Homo sapiens: one gene and its partners. Each later gene encodes a partner of the first gene's protein in a complex. Each region holds a gene or a part of one and is shown on either strand. Other genes may lie near its edges.

The links.
Region 2: the proteins of ARPC5L (region 1) and ACTR2 are in contact, whole or in part, in a cryo-EM structure (PDB 6YW6), measured with the Homo sapiens proteins. Residues at the interface, in NP_112240.1 of Homo sapiens: Arg11, Arg12, Val13, Asp14, Ile15, Asp16, Glu20; in NP_005713.1 of Homo sapiens: Tyr225, Glu263, Phe266, Gln267, Arg319, Lys322, Gln323, Ser338.
Region 3: the proteins of ARPC5L (region 1) and ARPC1B are in contact, whole or in part, in a cryo-EM structure (PDB 6YW6), measured with the Homo sapiens proteins. Residues at the interface, in NP_112240.1 of Homo sapiens: Asn21, Lys22, Arg102, Gly139, Leu140, Gly141, Ile144, Arg145, Thr148, Arg150, Lys151; in NP_005711.1 of Homo sapiens: Arg118, Lys138, Arg142, Phe164, Ser201, Gly203, Trp204, His222, Asp223, Ser224, Thr225, Leu240, Ala241, Ser242, Glu243, Thr244, Leu245, Pro246, Phe281.

Annotation. Positions count from the first base shown.
Region 1 is NC_000009.12:124,857,772-124,865,597, reverse strand, and holds the start of ARPC5L (actin-related protein 2/3 complex subunit 5-like protein), read right to left. Parts: upstream 3,469-7,826; 5' UTR 3,200-3,468; intron 1,611-3,199; 5' UTR 1,491-1,610; intron 1-1,490. Other genes in the region: RPL35 (large ribosomal subunit protein uL29), read left to right, coding at 3,686-3,688, 4,043-4,179, 5,334-5,415, 7,531-7,680. UniProt on the Homo sapiens protein: May function as component of the Arp2/3 complex which is involved in regulation of actin polymerization and together with an activating nucleation-promoting factor (NPF) mediates the formation of branched actin networks.
Region 2 is NC_000002.12:65,223,344-65,231,210, reverse strand, and holds the start of ACTR2 (actin-related protein 2), read right to left. Parts: upstream 3,381-7,867; 5' UTR 3,302-3,380; coding exon 3,254-3,301; intron 1-3,253. UniProt on the Homo sapiens protein: ATP-binding component of the Arp2/3 complex, a multiprotein complex that mediates actin polymerization upon stimulation by nucleation-promoting factor (NPF).
Region 3 is NC_000007.14:99,369,835-99,378,165, forward strand, and holds the start of ARPC1B (actin-related protein 2/3 complex subunit 1B), read left to right. Parts: upstream 1-4,895; 5' UTR 4,896-4,947; intron 4,948-8,331. UniProt on the Homo sapiens protein: Component of the Arp2/3 complex, a multiprotein complex that mediates actin polymerization upon stimulation by nucleation-promoting factor (NPF).

The DNA of each region.
Region 1 (7,826 bases):
GGCTGGTCTCGAACTCCTGACCTCAGGTGATCCACCTGCCTTGGCCTCCCAAAGTGCTAGGATTACAGACGTGAGCCACCTCACCCGGCCTTAAGTTGGGTAAATTTTGAAGGTAGAGTACCTGGAATTTACTGGTTGACTAGATGTGGCGTGTAAGAGAGAGTCACAAATGACTTCAGGTTCGAAAAAGATGTGCAGAGTCATTAACTCTAAGCATTTAAAAATATAACAGCAAAGGCACTGTGCACCATTAGACTTTCCTTTTTTTTTTTTTTTTTTTTTAGACAGAGTTTCCCTCTTGTCACCCAGGCTGGAGTGCAATGGCCCGATCTCGGCTCACTGCAACCTCTGCCTCTGGGTTCAAGCGATTCTCTTGCTTCAGCCTCCAGAGTAGCTGGGATTACAGGCGTGCACCACGTGAGCCACCACGCCCGGCCTAGACTTTCATTTAAGACTAAGCTATGCCGGCCAGGTACAGTGGTTCACACCTGTAATCCCAACACTTTGGGAGGCCGAGACAGGTGGATCACCTGAGGTCAGGAGTTTGAGACCAGCCTGGCCAACGTGGTGAAATGCCGTCTCTACTAAAAATATAAAAATTAGCCAGGCATCATGGCGGCACCTGTAATCCCAGCTACTTGGATTACAGTAGCTGTAGGCAGGCTGGGAGGCTGAGGCAGAAGAATCCTTTGGACCCAGAAGGCAGAGGTTGCAGTGAGCCGAGATTGTGCCATTGCACTCCAGCCTGGGCAACAAGAATGAAACTCAGTCTCAAAAAAAAAAAAAGGTCCAGGCGCACTGCGCCGTGGCTCATGCCTGTAATCGCAGCACTTTGGGAGGCTGAGGCAGGCGGATCTCTTGAGGTCAGGAGTTTGAGACCACCCTGGCGAAACCCCGTCCCTACAAAAAATACAAAGATGGGCCAGGCGCGGCAGCTCACACCTGTAATCCCAGCACTTTGGGAGGCCAAGGCAGGCGGATCACAAGGTTAAGAGTTCAATACCAGCCTGGCCAACATGGTGGCCAGGTGAAATATGGTGAAACCCCGTCTCTACTAAAAAAACAAAAATTAGCTTGGCTTGGTGGTGCATGCCTGTATTCCCAGTTCCTCGGGAGGCTGAGGCAGGAGAATCGCTTGAACCTGGGAGGCAGAGGTTGCAGTGAGAGCCGAGATTGTGCCCCTGCACTCCAGCTTGGGCAATAGAGCAAGACTCCATTTTGGAAAAAAACAAAAATACAAAGATTAGCCGGGCATGGTGGCACGCACCTATGTAATCCCAGCTATTCAGGAGGCTGAGGCACAAGGATCGCTTGAACCTGGGAGGTGGAGGTTACAGTGAGCTGAAATTGTGCCACTGCACTCCAGCCTGGGTGACACAGCAAGACTCCATTTCAAAAAAAAAAAAAAAAAGTCTAAGCCATGCCGGGATTGCCCTCTCTCTACTCTCTTTTTTCCCCATATCCCTCCACCTCCTGAAAGCCTTCCTCACCTTGGTGTGGGTCAAGGTTCATTAATTCATCCAACAAGCATCCATGTACTGGGCCTGGAGACTAGAACAATTAATTCAGTTGTCCGCCAAGGTTCTGTCCCCAGAGAACTTCTAGGTTGGCTGTGGAAATAGACACATAAATGCATCATTTTATTTCAGCCTGTTTGGGGCTAAGGAAAGGATTGCACAGAGGTTGCTACTCATAGGAGATGGGAGAAGTCTCCTTGTGGGTGGTTACAGCTGGTAGTAACAAGAGGACAATCTGGCTTCAACCATAACTCTAAGAGGTGGCATGTCTTTATTAAGGGCAAGGGAGTGGCACTGGAGTGCTGATTAATGCCTACTGGTTGGCAGACATTAATCAGAAAGCCTAAACATGCCCTGCCTTGTGAATTCCCGTTTCACTTTCCGGGCTCTACTGAAGTGTTCCTTCCTCTGGGAACATGAACACCAATGATATTTTGAGCCATTGTTATGCGTCAGATTTCGGGTTAACAGCTTTACAGATATCTCCTCTAATTCTCATAAATGCCTCATTTCACATGTGAGCAAACTGAGACTCAAGAAAGGGGAAGAGATTTCCCAAGAGTCTCAACTACTACCTTGGCAGCAGAGCAAGAATTTGAAACCTGGTCAGGTTCACTTTAAAAAAGGCTGTACTAGCCGGGCGCAGTGGCTCACACCTGTAATCCCAGTATTTTGGGAGGCTGAGGCGGGTGGATCACTTGAGGTCAGGGGTTTGAGACCAGCCTGGCTAAACCTTGTCTCTACTAAAAATACAAAAATTTAGCTGGGTGTAGTGGCACACACCTGTAGTCCCAGTTACTGGGGAGGCCAAGGCAGGAGAATCTCTTGAACCCGGGAGGTGGAGGTTGCAGTGAGCCGAGATCGCGCCACTGCACTCCAGCCTAGGCGACAGAGCCAGACTCCATCTCAAAAAATATATAAAAAATAAAATAAAAATAAAAAAGGCTGTATGGCCAGGCGAGGTGGCTAACCCCTGTAATCCTAGGCACTCTGGGAGGCCGAGGAGGGCGGATTGCTTGAGCCCAGGAGACCACCCTGGGCAACAGCTCTACAAAAAATAAACAAATTAGCCAGGCCTGGTGGCTTGTGCCTGTAGTTTCAGCTACTCGGGAGACTGAGGTGGGAGGGCTGCTTGAACCCGGGAAGCGGAGGTTTTGGTGGGCGGAGAGCGCGCCATGCCTTCCAGCCAGGGTGACAGAGCGAGACCCTGTCTGAAAAAAAAAATTAAAAAATAAAAAAAATAAATAAAGGCTGGGGCCAGGCGTGGTGGCTCACGCCTGTAATCCCAGCACTTTGGGAGGCCGAGGCGAGGGGATCACCTGAGCTGAGGAGTTCAAGATCAGCCTGGGCAACATGGCGAAACCCCGTCTCTACTAAAAATACAAAAAATTAGCCAGGCGTGGTGGTGCATGCCTGTAATCCCAGCTACTCAGCTACTCGGGAGGCTGGGGCAGGAGAATCGCTGAACCCGGGAGGCGGAGGTTGCAGTAAGCCGAGATCGCGACACTGCACTCCAGCCTGGCACCCTGGGCGACAGAATGAAGCTCTGTCTCAAAAAAAAAAAAAAAAAAAAAGGTGTAAATGCTCTTTGCAGTTCCATATACTGCCTCCCCAGAACCTTTATGGAGTTGGATTATAACTGCCTGAGCCCGCCCCTCCCGTCCATCTCGCGCTTTAAATTCCTCCGCGACGTGAGCCTCGGTTAATCGTCTTTGAAAACTCTGGCCCCTCCTCCCGTCAGCACCCCCAGACTACTGGCGCCCAGCTCAGAGTTGCCCAGATTGGGAGATCTGCAAGGTTTCCCGAAGGAATGAATGAACGAATGACTGAATGGACGAATTTGAGTCCTCCGTGTGCCATCTCTGGTAGCTGCCGCCCACGTTGGGCCTCGGTTTCCCCAACTGCGCGCCTACACCGTGACGCCGACCTCGCTATCAGGGGTGCCGTGAATGAGGCGAGCACTACAAGGCGGGGCTCCGGCCCTACCAGGCGGGGCGGGCAGTACCACGGCGTTCCTCGGGGGCGGGGGAGATGAGGCGGAGCCGGGGCTCCCCCGCTGCGGCGCCATTGGCCGCGCCCGCCGCCACCCGGCAGTAGTTGCGGAGGTCAGCCCCGCCTACTTCCTCTTTCCCTCGGAGCGGGCGGCGGCGTTGGCGGCTTGTGCAGCAATGGTGAGAGCTGCGGAATCGGGCGCCATCCGAGCGCTGTGAGGCGCGGGGGTTGGGGAAGGCGGTGCGGGCTGAGCCCGCGGATTCTATCTGCCACCTAGGCCTGTGGGGCGCCGCGCAGAATGGTCTGGCGCCACCACAACCCGCCTCTTCGCTTGGCGCCGGGAGAGGCGCGCGGCCCGGGCCTGGGTTACTCTGCCCAAGGCACGGCCGGCGAGGGAGACTGTCCTGAGCCCTGGTTGGGGCTCCGGCGCACTCGTAGTCGATGGCGAGTCGCGCGCCTTTGGGGGCTGGCCACGCAGGTGAAGGGGATATGGCCCCGCGGCCTGGCTGAGGCACACTCTCTCTTGCGCGCAGGCCAAGATCAAGGCTCGAGATCTTCGCGGGAAGAAGAAGGAGGAGCTGCTGAAACAGCTGGACGACCTGAAGGTGGAGCTGTCCCAGCTGCGCGTCGCCAAAGTGACAGGCGGTGCGGCCTCCAAGCTCTCTAAGATGTAAGTGAGGCGGCCGGATCACAGCCCTCGTGGGTGGGGAGCACGTGTGCATCGGGATCGTCGGAGGATTTCAAAGTTGGCTTAAGGAGCTGGCCGCTTAGATGCCCACTCCGTGCATCCTGGCGCGCATGGGAGACCCGTTGTGTGCTTAGCCTCTTACCTGCCTTGACCTTGCGGTCCTTGTGCCTGGAATGCATCCCCGGAGACCCATCTTAATGCTGCCTTCAAAGCCTACCCGGACCCCTTCCTTCCGCTTCCCACCAACACTTGAGTTTTTAACCCCCTTGGCAGGTGGGTGGCTTGCACCCTGGAGTGGCAGCGTAAGTTATTTTACATGGCTAAGAGTGCGGGAGACTTGTGAAAGGAACATGGGTTTGGAGTTCATCAACCTGGGTACAAAGTCCACTTCTCAAAAAAAAATTAGATGGGTGTGGTGGTACAGGCCTGTAGTCCCAGCTACTCTGGAGGCTGAGGCAGGAGGATCACTTGAGCCCAGGAGTTGGGAGGCTATGATGGGGCCACTGCTCTTCAGTCTGGTTGACAGGTGAGACCCTGTCTCCAAAAAAAAAAAATGGTGGTTGCCCTCTTTGCCCCCAAACAACCTTAGTAGAGGCAGGGGTGGGAGGATTGGACAAGCACAGTTGCACACTGAATCCTCAAAAACCATGTTGACCAGCTGTCTACTAGGTGACTCCCTCATCCTGACATGACTACAAATAACTTCTCCCTGGCTCGTTGTTTGCTTCAGTCTCCTGGCTTGTAGTGACTCCACTTTGCAAATGTCTTGTTTCTCTCTCCTGCAGTTCCCTAAGCTAGCCTGATTGCCTGGTTTGTGGCATGATTCCTTCCCATCAGCTCATTGAAATTGGCATTGGTTGGGTCTTAGCCCTCAGGATAAATTCGTGTTCTGGGATTGAAGGTCTTTTTCTGATCTGCCTCATTTATCCAGCCTGCACTTCCTCATAAAGCCTCTGCTGTCTCTCCCATGCCCCTCTCTTCCCTCCTCAGACCTCACTCCCAGAACGCCTTCCTCCTGAGTGAATATGGATGGGTTGATGGGGGAGGCTGCAGCTATTGCTGCCCTATGTGTGAGTCCTGAGTCTTGGGTAGTGCTATGTGTCTTCCCTATCTTCACTGACATCTCTGTTTTGTAGCCGAGTCGTCCGGAAATCCATTGCCCGTGTTCTCACAGTTATTAACCAGACTCAGAAAGAAAACCTCAGGAAATTCTACAAGGTGAGTCTGCCTGGACATAGGGAGGGTTGGCTGCAGGAAGCCAAGTGCTAGCCGTCCCTGGCCGGGGACATGGTAAAGAGGTTTTTCTTGGTGCGTGGGCTGAGAGTGGTTAGCCTTCCCAATTTGTTGCTGGGCTCACTCTTCTACCAGTGTCTTGCACTGGCACGTGGCTCTGCAGACCACTTCCTCAGGCTGCAGATGTCAAGAATTCATTGGGGCTTGGGGTGTCCTGGCTGGAGACTCAGTTTTTGAAACCAGCCTTCCCAGTTGAGTGGCTTGGGCAGTGATAGGACTGGCTGTTGAAGGTTTTCACTGCCTCTTACTGGCACTGGGTGTCAGTCCCTGCCAGGCACCTGCCATGCTCATTTTTCAGATGAGGGCCCTGAGGCCTAGACACCCACAGTCAATGGCATGATGGGCCCTGGTTCCAAACCTTACCTTGGGGAGGGTCGGCTTTAGTGTTCTGGGAGGTGTGCACAGGTGTCTGGCCCCCTCTTAGTCTTGAATTTTGATAACCATTTTCTGGTCTTGTCCTTAACATTCATCTTATTGGGGTTCAAGCAGAGAAAACTAGGGGGAGACGGTGTGTGCACATGCATCCAATGTATTCTGAAGAATGGGCATAGGTGATTGTGGGGGCTGGCTGGGACTCAGGGCTCAGGTTGAAGCTGCTGTTCCCAGTGGGTACTTGGAGGGAGCCTCAGCCCTGTGCTTAAGACTTACAGCTGATTGGATCGGGCCTTCTGGGATTACCCAGGATAATCTCCCCTAAAGTTACCTGATGAGGGTCTTTAATTTCATCTGCAAAATGGTTCCACATCACTACCCAAATTGTGTTTGAATAACTTGAAGATTTGACACAAGGGAAAAGCAGCCATGGCTGATGAAGTGCCACAGGCCTATAACCCCAGCTACTGGGAGGCCGAGGCAGGAGGATGGCTTGAGCCCAGGAGTTAAAGTGTAGCCTGGGCAACATAGTGAGGCCTCATCTCAAAAAAATGAGAAGGGCCATAGTGTGGCTATGTTAGCTGTTCAGGGGACACTAGCACGTGTGTGGCAAAAGTAAACCTTTAATGTCAGCAGCTACGTGTGTGGCTAGTGGCTGCTCTGTTGGACAGCAGAACTCTAGGGGGTTAGCCAATGTGAAAAGGACGAATGCCCAGCCGATGCCAGCAGGAGTGAGGGATGTGGGAGGACAAAGACTTTCCTGCTTCCAAGTACCCTCCAGGGCTGGCCCTCATTGTCCAGGATCTTTCTGCAGTCCTCTGCCCACCTGCAGGGGCCTGGGGCCCTGTGACCTCAGAATCCCCCATACCATGGGCCACTTGTTACCTGTTCAGTCTTCCCCCACTAGGCTGGGACCCCTGAGCAGGGACTGGGTCAGATCCTTTGCCAAGCCAGCTCCCAGCACAGGGCCCAGTCCTGAAGGGGGCCCAGGGGACCTTTGCAGAACACAGGAGAGACCAGTGAGAGCTGCCATGGTCTAGAACCCCCTGCTGGAGAACAAGTGGGGCAGGAGTGGGAGCCAAGGATGGAAAGACAGATGATGGCTCTGTGACAGCTGTGGGCAGGGGCCCCAAAGCCGGAAGCAGGTGGGGCAAGTGGCCTTGGCCAGCCAGGCCTCTGAGGCTGGACGTTCATACAGGCAGCAGCTGGTGGGCCCTGCATACAGATGGACAGAGTACTGCCTCAGCCCCCAGCATGCTCTTGCTAACCAGAGCCGAGGTAATGGTAACTACCCCCGGGGCTTGGTGGGTGCTGCGTGCCCTGTACTAGGTTGTCATGTGACTGTCCTCGTGACTGGGAATCGGGCAGTGGAAGGAGCACTGAGTTGGGAGTCACTTGACTGAGATGCAAGCCCCGGCTCTTCCACAGCTTTGCCAAGACTTGGACACTCAGCCCAGTAGGTCAGCAGACTTACATGAAATGAGGATGGTCCCACCAGCCTTAGATTTGGGGGGATTAATTGAGTTAGTGACATGTGTGGCCTGCTGGCAGTCCCATGGTGGCAGCCTCCTCCTGAGTGGCTCTGGATGGCCCTCCCCAGCCCCCTTAGCTGCTGCAGTAGCTCCTCAGCCCTGGGTCCTTGGATTCACCCTGCCGTCTGTCTCCCAGGGCAAGAAGTACAAGCCCCTGGACCTGCGGCCTAAGAAGACACGTGCCATGCGCCGCCGGCTCAACAAGCACGAGGAGAACCTGAAGACCAAGAAGCAGCAGCGGAAGGAGCGGCTGTACCCGCTGCGGAAGTACGCGGTCAAGGCCTGAGGGGCGCATTGTCAATAAAGCACAGCTGGCTGAGACTGCTTTGTTTCCTGGCACTTCCACTGATTGGGTGGAGGTGGGTGGGTCTGGTTTTGGGGACCAGGTGTCTGATGGGTTCCAGCAAGCGTCCTGCCCACCACAGTTGTCTG
Region 2 (7,867 bases), on another chromosome or scaffold:
GAAGCATAAGAACAGATAAATTTTATTTGAATTAATTACACTCACTTTTTTCATTTATGACAGGAATTGATCACTTGTCTTAAGGAAAAGAATCTTAAAAACATGGATTAGACACAAGACTAATCAATAACATACTACAATCAGCTTTTTTTTTTTTTTGTGACAGTCTCACTCTGTCGCCCAGGCTGGAGTGCAGTGGCGTGATCTTGGCTCACTGCAACCTCTGCCTCCCAGGTACAAGTAATTCTCCTGCCTCAGCCTCCCAAGTAGCTGGGATTTCAGGCATCAGAAACCACACCCGGCTAATTTTTGTATTTTTAGTAGACACGGGGTTTCACCATGATGGCCATGCTGGTCTCAAACTCCTGACCTCAAGTGAACCTCCTACCTCGGCCTCCCAAAGTGCTGGGATTACAGGCATGAGCCACAACGCCCAGCCTAAAATCAGCCTTCTAATGTTAGCTAACTAATGGAATAGTAACATAACATTAGCTTCTGACAGCAGGGTGCAGTGGCTCAAGCCTGTAATCCTAGCACTTTAGGAGGCCGCAGTGGGCAGATCTTTTAACCCCAGGAGTTCAAGACCAGCCTGGGTAACATAGGGAGACCCAGTCTCTACAAAAATAAAAAAATTAACTGGGTGTGGTGGCACAAGCCTGTAGTCCCAGCTACTCGGGAGGCTGAAGCAGGAGAACCGCTTGAGCCCAGGAGGCAGAGGTTGCAGAGAGCCGAGATCACGCCATCGCTCTCCAGCCTGGGCAACAGAGCTAGATCCTGTGTCCAAAAAAAAAAAAAAAAAAAAAAAAATCAGCTTCGGTTAACATTCCCATTCTAATTTAATATTTAAAAACTCATATATACTACAAATACAGGGCTCATTACCTTGAACCCCTAAAAGAATTCATTAAAATATAACTGGCTTGACTTTCTAAAAAGAGTATCTGACACAATCACAAAACAAAAAATTTTAAATTCAATTTTTAAAGTTTTTTATTTATTTAGAGGCCAATTTGAAACTATAGTGGAAATCAGGCTAATACTTTTTTAAAAAGCACATTTAACTGAATTTTAGCCGCACATGTAACATGCGTTTATGGTTAATTTAGTTTAAATATAGTTTAATAATACTTGCTTTGTTCAAATAAAGAACATTTTTCCAATAATTCAGAAAGGTCATGAAGTCCTCTCCATCTTCCCTCACTCCCTTATCCTCTGTCTCATAGGTAACCATTATGAACATTTCTTATGTATCCCTCCAAAACTTTCATATGCGGATACAAGTTTGTGGACATACATCTTTAATAAGGAACACACACTTAAACTGAATCATTCTAAAACCTTTTTCAACTTAAAATCTTAGACGTTTCCATAGCAGTGGATCTGCCTTTTTAAAAATATTACATTCTTAAAAACCGTCACATTAATATGTTTTGTTTTTCTTTTTTTTTTTTTTTTTTTTTGAGACGGAGTCTTGCTCTGTCGCCCAGGCTGGAGTGGTGCGATCTCGGCTCACTGCAACCTCCGCCTACCGGGTTCAAGCGATTCTCCTGCCTCAGCCTACCGAGTAGCTGGGATTACAGACGCCCACCACCATGCCCGGCTAATTTTTGTATTTTTAGTAGAGACGGGGTTTCACTATGTTGGCCAGCCTGGTCTCAAACTCCTGACTTCAGGTGATCCGCCCGCCTAGACCTCCCAAAGTGCTGGGATTACAGGCATGAGCCACCGCGCCTGGCCTCAATGTACGTTAACACTCTTTTTACTCTAGTCCATTTTTAACACAGTTCAGATGAAGCTACCATAATTATTGCTTGTAAAATTGTGTAACAAATCTAATCAAGGGCAGTATTATGGCAGTAAATACCAGCTCTTTTCCCCCTCAACAATTCAGATTCCAAAGTGTTTTGTTCAAGTAAAATGAACTTTAATTCATACATCATATTTATGGGAGGGAGGGGAGAAAACTCACAAAATGTTGCAACATCAAAATGGTTAGAAATCACTATAGAAGTCATCCAGAATAAATAATATTTCCATCTTCTAATTTGCTGACTTTGCTACCCAAAATACATTTTTTTTTAATCTGGCAAGAGGGAGGTCTGAATGAAACAATTTTTTTTTTTTATAATTGAGACGGAGTTTCACTCTTGTCGCCCAGGCTGGAGTGCAGTGGCGCAATCTCGGCTCACTGCAACCTCCGCTTCCTGGCTTCAAGGGATTCTCCTGCCTCAGCCTCCCAAGTAGCTGGGATTACAGGCAAGCACCACCACGGCCGGCTAATTTTTGTATTTTTAGTAGAGACCGGGGTTTCACCACGTTGGCTGGGCTGGTCTCGAACTCCTAACCTCTGGTGATCTGCCCGCCTGGGCCTCCCAAAGTGCTGGGATTACAGAAACAATTTTCAAATAGTTTCTAAATCAGTGCTTTAGTCAGATTTTACAATTTTTGAATCTTAAAGGCTAACATTACCTGTATACTGAAACGAAGGGAAAAAAGGGGGCTGGGGGTGGGATAATCAACACTAATTAACTTCCCCTAAGGCTAGTGGAATTAACACTTGAGTCTTGCGGGATCCTAGGTCACCCAAAACCACTCAATGGAACATGCTGGTCTCCGTGGGCCTACTCCTGGGCCAAATACTAGTATGTAAAACAAAAAGTGAACGATGCGCTGCCGATCTGGACCCCTTCCCTCGAAAAAACTAATAAAAAGCCCAACAAACACAGCGAAAGGGCTGAGGTCCACACTCCATGACAGCACTTCCCTTTTTTTTTTTTTTTTTTTAAGTAAACCCGCTTCCTGCTTCTCGTTTGGTGTATCTTCAACTATACAGGAAGAGGAAGGCCTCTAGGTCTTTCTCCTTTTTACAAACCGGTGGCCCTGGGGAAAAGAGCCCTTCTCGGAACACACAAACCGAGCCTTTTACGCTTCCGTCCGCTTTAGCCCAATTGCCCCCGCATTAGCGCGGAGCAGGTCCCTGCCGGGCGGTCAGTAGGCTCCATGTCCAGTGCCGGTCTCGCCCGCCGCCCCCACCCGGAAGGGTGAGGGGGTGGCAGGCTAAATGGGTGGCAGGCTCAAGGGAGACCAGGGAACGGCCGGCTCGCTCCCACGCCCGCGGAGGTGGGAGGCACCGCCCCGCGCCCCTTCGCCCCGAGGGCCCGGAGGTGCAGCCCTGGGGGCCGAGGGCCCGTGCGCCAGCTGCTCGTCCCCGCCGGCGTCTGTGGCCGCCAAGGCCTCCTCGCGCGGCCCTTACCCCGGTGCCGTTGTCGCACACCACCACCTTCCTGCCCTGGCTGTCCATCGTCCGCCCAGGGAAGAGCCGCTGCAGCCGCACAACCTACAGCCACCGCCGCCCGGCCGTTTTCTCTTCTTCCTCTTGCGTCTTCCCGGCCCCTCCTTCGGCCCAACTTTTTTCCCCCGACCGGAAGCCGCCGCCGGGCTCCGCCCGTCATTTAGCTGAATGCCTGCACGAAAAGGGTGGGACGGGCAGGCAGCGCGACTGGCAGCGGTGAGCTCCAATAAAAGATGGAGGAGCGTCGAGGCCCCTCCCGCAGCTCCGCTTCCGGCTCGGCTGTCACGGTCGCTGCCCACCCGGGTTCTTCGCTGCTTCTAGTTCCGGGCGCTTTGCCGGGCGTTAATGGCGGCCAACATCGCCGGTGCTGCGGCTTTCTCCCTAAAGTGTCACAGGAGCTAAGGGCGCTGCTTAACGAACTGCAGAAGACGCAGGCAGGTGAAGGACACCGGTTCTGCTGCGGCAGTGGAATGTGGCGGAGAAGCTGGCGGGTAGGGCGGGGAGCAAGCCTGGAGGTCCTGGCGGACCCCACCATTCGACAGGGCTTGGTGTGTTATTGCTTCTAGGCCTTTTCAGCGGACAGAACTGGGATGGATACACACATGCTTATTTGAAATCATGCGTTTGTTCCATACTCCAATGTCAGCCCACCCCTTCTTTGCCCAAGTTGCTCTATGGTCAAGTGAGCGAGAGCAGGTGCCTGCATTTCCAGCCTCGTGGCTCACCGCCTCCTTCCAGTAGTCCCATGTTGCTTCACACCTCTTAAGTACATGTACTTCTGTGAACCCAGAGCCTTGGCTTTGAAATCAGACAACCCCAGTTTCAAACGTGGCGCTGCCACTCACGAGTTTTGTGATTTTGGCATACCCCTGTCTGCATGGGGATAATAACTTCTATCTCCATAGGTGTGGTGAGGATAAAAGTCTATGCATGGAGGAAATGTTCATTCAGTGGTAGCTATTTCTAATTCTGTTCTTCTGGACCTATGATTCTATCTACGATGCCTCATTTTTTTTCCTTTTTAATCAATTGGCAAACTTGTGCTCTGAGACCCAGCTTGTTACATCTCTGATGACAGCTGATATCCTCAGGATATTCCGTACTTCCTTTCTCCCTATTACTTTACTATGAATATATGAATAACATTGTGCTTATTGCATGCAACAAATATTTATTAGATGAATGACATTAAAATTCACCTTTAAAATGCCATCCTTTATGAGAGGTGAGAAATAGAACTTTTCCTTCGACATGGCTGTACATGTTCAACAACTAGAATAAAACAGTCATCATGAACCCTCAATCCAGTATTCTTTTTATAATATAGCTGCCTGTCAGTTTTCACTGTTCTTTTATTAGACCAGTGATTTTCAAACCTTTTTAAAGGCATACAGTGCTTTATTCAAATCTAATCTTATATGGAACCCTCAACACATAAATATTAAGATAAAAATAAAGCTGCCATTGTTGCAATTAGAAGTTTGAGAGGTTAGAATAGGTAGGAAGTCTCGGAGGAACATTTCTTCGTTTTACCTGCTTTAACAGTCAGAGAAGTACCTCAGCCAGCAGAAAAATTTATTTGTTCATAAATTCCTTGAGTATAGAGTCCGTATCTTATTTTTGTGGCCTCCAATGCTAGTGCTGTGCAGTTTTCTTGAAAGTGCATTTTATTGGTCTCAGCAAATTGAACTCAAGCATTTCTGTGTTCTTTTACTTTTCCTCTTTGTGGAATTAAGGGGATTGCTAATTTGTATTTTTAAAGAAAGAACATTATTCCGGGCGCGGTGGCTCACGCCTGTAATCCCAGCACTTGGGGAGGCCAAGGAGGGCAAATCACCTGAGATCAGGAGTTCAAGACAAGGCTGACCAACATGGCAAAACCCCGTCTCTACTAAAAATACAAAAATTAGCTGGGCGTGTTGGCACGCGCCTGTAATCCCAGCCACTCAGGAAGCTGAGGCAGGAGAATCGCTTGAACCCGGGAAGCAGAGGTTGCAGTGACAGAGATCGTGCCACTGCACTCCAGCCTGGTGAGAGCAAGACTCTGTCTCAAAAAAAAAAAAAAAAAATTGGCAAGTTTGGCCCTAAAATTTATATGAAATGAAAAGGAACCAGAATAAAAGGATTTCGAAACAGAAAAAGATGGAGAACTTCCACTACCTGAATTCAAAACTTATTATAAAGCTACAGTAATGAAGACTGTAATACTGGCATAGAGGCAGATATATCGATCAATGGAATCAAATAGTCCACAAATAAACCTTTACATTATGGTCAGTTGATTTTCAACAATGGTGCTAAAACAATCCATGGGGAAAGGGTAATCTTTTCAATGAATGATGTGGGAGGGAAAAAAAAGAACTTTGATTCTTACCTCACATCACACATAAAAATTGATTTAAGTGGATCATAGACCTAAATATAAAAGCTAAAACTATAAATTTCAGAAGAAAAAGAGGAAAATCTTTTGATATTAAGTTAAGCAAAGTTTGCTTAGATATGACGCTAAAATCGTGATCTATAAAAGAAAAAATTGATAGTTGACATAATAGAAATTTAAAGCTTTTAGTTCATGTATTGAAACAAAAAATCTAGACTGGGACAATGGCTCACATCTGTAATCCCAGCACTTTGGGAGACCAAGGTGGGTGGATCGCTTGAGCTCAGGAGTTCAAGACCAGCCTAGGCCAGATGGTGAAACCCCATCTCTACAAAAAATACAAAAATTAGCTGTGCATATAGTCCCAGCTACTTGGGAGGCAGAGGTGGGAAGATGGTTTGAGCCCAGGAGGCAGAATTTGCAGTGAGCTGAGATTGCGCTACTACGCTACAGCCTGGGTGACAGCCAGACCCTATCTAAAAAAAAAAAAAAAAAAAAAAGAAGAAGAAAACAAAAACAAAAAATCTTGGTCTGTCTTAGGCAACAAGCAATTAAAAAAAAAGTAGAAAATAAAGCAAAAGGGCCGGGCGCAGTGGCTCACGCCTGTAATTCCAGCACTTTGGGAGACTGAGGCGAGTGGATCACCTGAGGTCAGGAGTTTGAGACCAGCCTCGCCAACATGGTGAAACCCCATCTCTACTAAATACAAAAATTAGCTGGGCGTGGTGGCGGGCACCTGCAATCCCAGCTACTTGGGAGGCTGAGGCAGGAGAATTGCTTAAATCCAGGAGGCAAAGGTTGCAGTGAGCCAAAATCATGCCACTGCACTCCAGCCTGGGCAACAGAGCATAACTCCATCTCAAAAAAAAAAAAAAAAAAGAAAAAGAAAAAGAAAAGCCATGAACTAGAAGAAAATATTTGAATAGATATTTTACCAAAGAAGATTTATGAATGGCAAATAAGTACATAAAAAGATATTCATCATCATTAATCATTAGAGAAATGCACATTGAAAGCATAATAAGATAACACTTAATACCCACTAGAATGGCTATAATCAGAAAAATAGAAAACAAGTTTTGGCGGGGCTAGGTGGCTCACACCTGTAATCCCAACACTTTGGGAAGCCAAGGCGAGTGGCTCACTTCAGGTCAGGAGTTTGAGACCAGCCTGACCCAACATGGTGAAACCCCGTCTCTACTAAAAAATACAAAAATTAGCCGGGCGTGGTGGCAGGTGCCTGTAATCCCTGCTACTTGGGAGGCTCAGGCAGGAGAATCGCTTAAACCTGGGAGGCAGAGATTGCAGTGAGCGGAGATCGTGCCACTGCACTCCAGCCTGGGTGACAGCGAGACTCCGTCTCAAAAACAAACAAAACAAAATAAAACAAAAAAAAATGGAAAACAAGTTTGGCAAGAATGTGGAGAAACAAACACTCCTACATTCCTGGTGAGAATGTAAAATGGTACAGGCACTTTGGAAAGCAGTTTGACAGTTTTTTAAAAAATTAAGCATAAATTGCCATATAACCCAGCAATTTCACGCCTAGGTATATACCTAAAAGAAATGAAAACATATGTCCATGGACTCATACCTACATGTCCATTGCAGAATTACTCATAATAGGCAAAAAGTGGAAACTATTCAAATGTCTTATCAGTTTGTGAATGAGTAAACAATATGTAGTACAGCCATACAATAGAATATTTGGTGATAAAAATAAACCAATACATGCTGTAACATGGATGAAAGTAAAAAAACACTATAGCAGATAAAAAGACTGTGATTTCATAGGAAAATCACAAATATAGAAAAAGCAAGATTATAGATACAGAAAGCAGGTTAGTGATTGCTGGGGCTGAAACTGGAAGCCAGGTTTGGCTGCAGATGGGCATGGGACAACTTTACGGATTGATGGAATACTAAAACTAGATTTTGGTAATGGTTACACAACCATAAAAATTTACTAAAAATAAACTGCACACTTGTAATAGGTAAATTTTGAGATGTGTAAATTTCATGTTGTAACTCCAATAAGGCTTTAAAAAATTTAAGTTACCTGCCCAAATGTACCTATCATGTAGCAGAAGCAGGATTAGACACAGGTGTGCCTGTCCTCAAAGCCTGAGCTCTGTTTACCCAGAGTTTTGGAAACTCCAGATCTATCATGAAAACCTAAGTCATTCTTAACCCGA
Region 3 (8,331 bases), on another chromosome or scaffold:
GACAAAGGGGAGATTATACTGGATACTGGGAGCTCTTAGAAAAGGTCCCTGCCACCGCCCCCCCTCCATCTCCCATCTCCCTGGTCTGCCTTGGCCCACCCACTGCTTGTCTGCAGTCAACCTAGCTGCCATTTTGTGACCAGGAGGCAATAAAACTGGTGCTTGAAGCTGGGAGGCAGAGGTTGTAGTGAGCCGAGATTGTGCCACTGCACTCCAGCGAGACTCCATCTCAAAAAAAAAAAAAAAAAAATAGCGACAGGCAAGGGGCAGAAAGCCAGCAAGAACCTGGGAGACTGCACCAGCCCTGGCCTGCCTCCCCCACGTCGGCCAGCCCTGGAGAGTCACAGCCTGGGTTTGTGGCTGCATTTCTTGGAAACATGAGAAGGCAATAAAGGAAGCAGGAGTGTGTAGCATCTTCGTCCCAGGGCCCTGCACAAAGCCAATTCTAGGAAGAAACAGAAAGCTCTCCAAGTTGTTCTGGGAGCTCCAGATGAAATCCTTCCATCACCAAGTTCCCTAACCCAAAGTGTTTCTCCACGTACGGCTTAGAAAACTTTCTCCCCCAAAGGAGCCATTTCAAATAATGCCTTCCATTGCTTTCCAATCTGAGGTCTGCTTTCTCCCATCCACTGGGTCTTCCCTCCACGACTGAAGGCCTGTGGGACGGGTGGGCAGGTGGACAGTGCTTGTCAGCTTCACTTTACAGATGTGGAAACTAAGGCACGGTTACACTACAGGTTAAGTGGCAGCACCAGAACTGGACCCACTTTCTTTCTTATTTTTCCTTTTTTGAGATGAAGTCTCGCTCCATCACCCAGGCTGGAATGTAGCCTGGTTACAGTGATCTCGACTCACTGCAACCTCTGCCTCCCGAGTTCAAGTGATTCTCCTGCCTCAGCCTCCAGAGGAGGTGGGATTACAGGTGTGCGCCACCATGCCCAGCTAATTTTTTTTGTATTTTTAGTAGAGACGGGGTTTCACCATGTTGGCCAGGCTGGTCTGGAACTCCTGACCTCAAGTGATCTGCCTGCCTCAGCCTCCTAAACTGCTGGGATTACAAGCGTGAGCCACTGCGCCCAACCTTTTTTTGGGGGGGATGGAGTCTTGCTCTGTTATCGGCTCACTGCAACCTCCACCACCCTCATTCAAGAGATTCTCCTGCCTCAGCCTCCTGAGTAGCAAGTAGCTGGGACTACAGGCATGTGCCACCACACCCAACTAATTTTTGTATTTTTGTTTTGTTTTGTTTTGTTTTGTTCTTCGAGACGGTCTCACTCTGTCACCCAGACTGGAGGGCAATGGCGTGGTCTCGGCTCACTGCAACCTCCACCTCCCAGGTTCAAGCGATTTTCCTGCCTCAGCCTCCCAAGTAGCTAGGATTACAGGCATGTGCCACCACACCCAGCTAATTTTTGTATTTTTAGTAGAGAGAGGGTTTCACTATGTTGGCCTGACCTCGAACTCCTGACCTCGTGATCCGCCCGCCTCGGCCTCCCAAAGTGCTGGGATTACAGGCGTGAGCCACTGCACCCAGGCTTTTTTTTTTTTTATTAGAAATGGGTTTTCACCATGTTAGTCAGGCTGGTCTCACCCTCCTGACCTTTTGTGATCAGCCTGCCTCCGCTTCCCATAGTGCTGGGATTACAGGCGTGAGCCACCATACCCGGCCTGGACTCAGTTTTCTACCACTGGATCATTCATTAACACATCTGTTAAGATGTGTGTTGAGTGACTCAGGCACCGGGCTCTGTCATGGGCCCAGGGGAGAGAAGAGGGAACAGTACAGCCATGGCTGCGGCTCGCATAGGCTTTTAGAGCCTTTACATCAACTCAGGTGACCTTAGTTTACATTTTCGCAGATAGGAAAAAGGAGTCTTGAGGTATGCATATTTGTTAGGATGCTTTGATGATTCGCAGCAGAAAAACTCAAAGCAGCCTAAAAATAAAGTGGAGGCTGCACACCGTGGCTCACGTCTGTAACCCCAGCACTTTGGGAGGCTGAGGCAGGAGGATTTCTTGAGGCAAGGAGTTCGAGACCAGCCTGGGTCACACAGGGAGAGCCCTGTCCATACAAAAATTTTAAAAATTAGCTGGGTGTAGTGGCGCATGCCTGTGGTCCCTCCCAGCTACGAGAGAGGCTGAGGTGGGAGAATCACTTGAGGCCAGGAGTTTGATACCAACCTGCACAACATAGCAAAAACACTATCCTTATAAAAATTTTTTTTTTTTTTTGAGAAGGAGTCTCGCTCTTTCATCCAGGCTGGAGTGCAGTGGCGTGATCTTGACTCACTGCAATCTCCGCCTCCTGGGTTCAAGTGATTTTCCTGCCTTAGCCTCTGGAGTAGCTGAGATTACAGGCGCGCGCCACCACGCCCGGCTAAGTTTTGTATTTTTAGTAGAGACAGGGTTTCACCATGTTGGTCAGGCTGGTCTCGAACTCCTGACCTCAAACGATCCGCCTGCCTTGGCTTCCCAAAGTGTTAGGATTACAGGCATGAGCCACCGCACCCAGCCTATAAAAATTTTAAAAATTAGCCAGGTGTGATGGTGCACACCTGTAGTCCCAAGTGCTCGAGAAGCTAAGGCGGGAGGATCACTTGAGCCCAGGAGCTGGAGGCTTCAGTGAGCTGTGATTGCGTCACTACATTCCAGCCTGGGTAAAAGAGGGAGACCCTGTCTCTAAAACATATTAATTAATTAAGCGGATAACTTGGCTCACATATCTGAATCTTTGGAGGCAGGTTGGGCTCAGACCTTCCAGTCAGAGGTGACCAGAGCTCCGGTTACTTCTCTGACCTTCTCTCGGCTCTGCACTCTCCCTGCAGCTTCCCTTGTTGCTGTTCCACTTCCGCGTTCCACTTACGAGTCCAGATTCCTGCAGCTCGCTCAGAAGGGGCTTTGTGCGCTGGATCATCAGCTGAAGTCCTGGGCTTTGCTTTGATTGGGTCATCTTAGGTCACAAGTGCAGCAGGACAGGGAACACCGTGAGCTGATTTAGACCACTCAGGGCCACTTGGGGTCATTCCCTGGGCATCTACAAAGCGGCAGAAGAGTAGGATGGAAGCCAGGGAAGCAGCAACAGGGTCACCTCAGTTACCCTACACTTGTCCCTGTGGGAAGAGGGCTGCCGGTACAGACCCCTTGAAGCTTTGTATCTGCTTGAACTAAAACCACCGCCTGTGTTTGCTGAGGTTGCCGACATCTGTCTGAGAAAATACGCAGGAGCAGCAAGGTTGGGGGGGCTCAGAAAAGTTCGAGCACTTCCTGTGTGCACACTGTATGACCCGATTCACACACCTGGACACATTTAATCCTCCCAACTACCCTAGGGGGTCGAATTCAGTGGAAAAGAGAGCGGCGGCTAAGGGCACCTCCAATGGGGAGGGTGTCGGGGCAAAGCGACCTGAGACCCCCAGCCACATACTGCAGGACAAACCAATGTCGGCAGGTGAGGACAGGGTGGGAATAGTGTTCCAGGCAGAAGGAACAGCGAGTGTCAAAGCCTCTAAGCCTGACAGGGTGGGAGTCTGGCCTCGGATCTCCAGAGATCCAGGAAGACCCTGCACAAATACTAGAGAGAGGGGTCTGAAGGAGAGAAGAGGAGGGAAGGTTTTTGTTGTTGTTTGAGAGGAAGTCTCGCTCTGTTGCCAGGCTGGCGTGCAGGGGCCCCATCTTGGCTCACTGCAGCCTCTGCCCCCGGGGTTCAAGCAATTCTCGTGCCTCAGCCTCCCGAGTAGCTGGGATTACAGCAGCGCTCCATCACGCCATGGGGCTCCTTGCAGCTAATTTTTTTTTTTTTTGAAACAGAGTCTCACTCTGTCGCCCAGGCTGGAGTGTAATGGCGCGATCTCGGCTCACTGCAACCTCTGCCTCCTAGATTCAAGCGATTCTTCTACCTCAGCCTCCCGAGTAGCTGGGATTACAGGCATGCGCCACCACGCCTGGCTAATTTTTGTATTGTTTAGTAGAGACGAGGTTTCACCGTGATAGCCAGGATGGTCTCGATCTGAGCTCGTGATCCTCCCGCCTCGGCCTCCCAAAGTGCTGAGATTACAGGCGTGAGCCACCGCGACCGGCCGAGGTAAGGTTTTCACTGGGGTCTCTTCCATCTGCCTGGCCGCCAGGCCACGTATCCACTGAAGAGGCAGAGGGTCAGGATGGGAAGACTCCGGGGACCACCTAGCCCAAGACCCGCAATCAGGCGGCTCTGCAAGGCTAACCGGGTAACTTAAAGAAGTGAAGCCGATTGACGTAAAACAGAAAGGAAAGAAGTTAACTGGCCGGCCAGCGTCAGCAGGGGCGGCCAGTGTCACCCTGCCCGGGGACAGCACCCCTGTTTCGTGGCGAGGACACGGAGGGCCAAGGGGGCGGGGCCGGGCTGCCCTGGCCACGCCCGGACCGCCTGCTCCCCGCCCAGGGCCTGCACAGTTGGCGCCCACCGGCATCAGCGTGAAGGGAGCTCCTCGCTGGCTGCCGACGGGGCTGCAGGGCTCGCTAGCCGCTCACCTGCGTGTGAGCGCGGAGCCCGCAGTACCCGCCGTCCGGGCTCAGAGGACGTGACTCCCCGACCCTGCGCCCGGCAGTCCCCGGGGGCCGTGCGCCCGGCCCAGGCTCGGAGGTCCAGCCCAGCGGCGGCTCAGGCTGCGCGCCTGGCTCCCAGCCTCAGTTTCCCCATTGGTAAAGCATTGACGGTGGTTGCGGACGGCTTCTGCGGACAGAGCCTTGGGCTCCGACGTCTGCGCGGGTACCGGCAGCACCCCCACCCCGAAGGGAGGGCGGGACCTGGATCTCGCGACCGCTGCCCCAGGTCCCCGCCCCCGGGCCCTACCGGGCTGAGGTCGGCAGGCCCCGCCCCCCGCCCACGAGGAAGTGGCTGCTGCTCCGGCGCGGAGCCCAGAGCCGGTTCGGCGCGTCGACTGCCCAGAGTCCGCGGCCGGGGCGCGGGAGGTGAGGGCCGTGGGGGCGCCCGGAGGTGGGGGTCAGGGGAGCCACCTGGAGGTGGGGGGGCGCGTAGATGTGGGGCGCCGCCTGGGAGTGAGCGGGACTGGAGGGATGAGAGGGGGTGCAAGGAGGGGACCGGGGGGCGCCTGGAAGTGAGGACGCATAGATGTGGGGCGCCGCCCAATAGGGGCACGGGGATGAGTGGGGGCACATGGAGAGGAGGGGGCGCGGGGACGAGGGGCTCACGGAAAGGAGAGGGAGCCCTGGGATTGGAGGGGGCGCGGGGGTGGCCGCAGGGCCAGACTGTGGAAACGCGGGCTCCCAGCGCACCGGGCGCCCTCGGGGCGTCCCCAGCCCCCGGCCCCAAGCTTCCGCCTCGTGCCTTCCGCCCCTGCTCCCCGGCCCCCATCCCCAGCCTTGCCCCGCGGTCGGTCGGTGTAGCCCCGTTACTTCGGGCCGGCGGGGCCCCACACCCAGTCACTTCCCCTCCATCCCCGGAGCCTTCCGGGTTGCAGCCGCCGGGAAATGAGCTGGCGTCTCCTGCCGCCCCGCCCCTGCCCTCCTGGCCGCTCCCGCTGCTCCCACCCGCCTCCCCCGGGCCAGGTCCGAGGGGTCCCGTACGGGGCGGGCCTGGCTGGCGGGGTCCCGGAACGCACCCCCTCAGCTGCAGGGCTCCGCGGCCAGGGCAGATCCGAGCAGCCCCTCCCTTTCCGGAGGCGCTGGGAGAGCAGCCAGGCCGCCTAGGGCGGGGCGGGGCCGGGCTGCACCCGCGGGCAGTGAAGGGATCAGGAGTGCAAGCCTGGGGAGTCAGACCTCCCCCTGCCTCCTCTGCCAATGCAGCCCGGAGGCTACCACCACCCATCCCGGCCGGGCGCGGTGGCTCACACATAGAATCCTAGCATTTTGAGAGGCCCAGGCGGGAGGATCGCTTGAGGCCAGGAGTTGGAGGCCAGCATGGACAGCATTGCGAGACCCTTTCTCTATTAAAATAAATAAATAAAATGTAGCCAGGCGCTGTGGCTCATGCCTGTAATCCCAACACTTTGGGAGTCGAGGTGGACGGATCACTTGAGGTCAGGAGTTCGAGACTAGCCTGACCGACATGGTGAAACCCTGTCTCTACTAAAAATACAAAAATTACCCAGGCATGGTGGCACGCACCTGTAATCCCAGCTACTCAGGAGGCTGAGGCAGGAGAATTGCTTGAACCCGGGAGGCAGAGGTTGCAGTGAGCCGAGATCACGCCATTGCACTCCAGCCTGGGCAACAGAGCAAGACTCCGTCTCAAAAAAAAAAAAAAAAGCCACGTAACATGCCTGTAATCCCAGCTACTTAGGAGGATGAGGCAAGAGAATTGCTTGAACCTGCCTTGGCAGTGAGCCAAGACTGTACCACTGCACTGCAGCCTTGGCAACAGAGCCAGACTCCGTCTCTAAATAAATAAATAAAATCTTAGGGACCTAGGTAGGAGTGCCAGCTTCTCCCTTCACTGGCCAGTGACTGGTAAGCCACCCAACTCCTGCCAGCCTCAACTTTCCTTATCTGGAAAATGGGAACCTTAAAGACTGGGAGGCTGAAATGCAATACTGCAAGACACCTGGCAGCGTGTCAGGCGCTGACAGTATAAACGTGCGTTTGTTGCTCACCTTGATCATAGTGTTCCCCCAGGTGAACCTAACTTCCTGGCCTCCAAGATTTGGGGTCAGAGTCCCAAGCTGCGTCATTTAGTAGAAGCCGAGTGACTTTGAACAAATCGTTGCTTTTGTCTGAGCCTGGGTTTCCTCCTGTACAAACTGAAGGTAAAAAGCAAACAGGCTGGGCGCGGTGGCTCACGCCTGTAATTCCAGCACTTTGGGAGGCCGAGGCAGGCAGATTACCTGAGGTCGGGAGTTCGAGACCAGCCTGACCAACGTGGTGAAACCCCGTCACTACTAAAAATACAAAATTAGCCAGGTGTGGTGGTGGGCACCTGTAATCCCAGCTACTCAGGAGGCTGAGGCAGGAGAATCGCTAGAACCTGGGAGGCGGAGGTTGCGGTGAGCCAAGATCATGCCGTTGCACTCCAGCCTGGGGTTACAAAGCGAGACTCTGTCTCCAAAAAAAAAAAAAAAAGCAAACAAAAAATGTCTCAGGCTTGCTTCAGGGGGAGAATGGTGAAAGGTCTGGGTAAAATCGCCCTGATAGATGCCGGTAAAGTTTGTTTCTTACATATGTCTGTACATAATCCATTGATAGGTCTTTTTCTTTTTTTCTGGAGTCCGGGTCTCATTGTGTTGCCCAGGCTATAGTGCCATGGCTTGATCATAACTCACTTTAGCCCCAAACTCCTGGGCTCAAGGGATCCTCCTGAGTAGCTGGGATTACAGGTATGTTCCTCCATGCCCAGCTAATTTTTAAATGTTTAGTAGAGGTAGGGTTTTGCTGTGTTGTCCAGGCTGGCCTCAAACTCCTGGCCTTAAGCGATCCTCCTGCCTTGGCCTCCCAAAGTGCTGGGGTTACAGGCATGAGCCTCCACGCCTGCCTTATACGTGCTTTCTTTTTTTTTTTTTTTTTTTGAGACAGTGTCTTGTTCTGTTGCCCAGGCTGGAGTGTGGTGACACTACCTTGACTCACTGCAGCATCTGCCTCCCGGGTTCCAGTGATTCTCCTGCCTCAGCCTCTCAGGTAGCTGGGATTACAGGTACATGCCAATATGCCCGGCTAATTTTTATATTTTTAGTAGAGACGGGGTTTCACCATGTTGGCCAGGCTGGTCTCGAACTGCTGACCTCAGGTGATCCGCCCACCTCGGCTTCCCAAAGTGCTAGGATTACAGGCGTGAGCCACCGCGCCCAGCTTCTTCTTCTTCTTCTTCTTCTTTTTTTTTTTTATTTGGAGGTGGCGGAGTTTCACTCTGTCGCCCAGGCTGCAGTGCAGTGGCACAATCTCAGCTAACTGCAACCTCTTCCTCTCGAGTTCAAGTGATTCTCTTGCCTCGACCCCCCGAGCAGCTGGGATTACAAGTGCCCACCACCAAGCCCAGATAAATTTTGTATTTTTAGTAGAGAGGGTTTTACCATGTTGGGCAGGCTGGTCTCAAACTCCTGACCTCAGGTGATCCACCTGCCTCCGCCTCCCAAAGTCTGGGATTACAGGTGTGAGCCACCGCACCCGTCGGTTGATAGGTCTTTTCTAATATTAATAATTACGTAGCATCTCAACATGTTAATGTCATAATTTACTCTTTCCATATTGTCACCTGGGTTTTTCCACACTGTCACCATTATAAAGACAGCTATTATAAACATGTTTGCTTTATTTTTTAGATGAGGTTTCACTCTGTCACCCAGGCTGGAGTACAGTGACGAGATCTCGGCTCACTGCAACCTCCACCTTCCCAGCTCAAGGAAT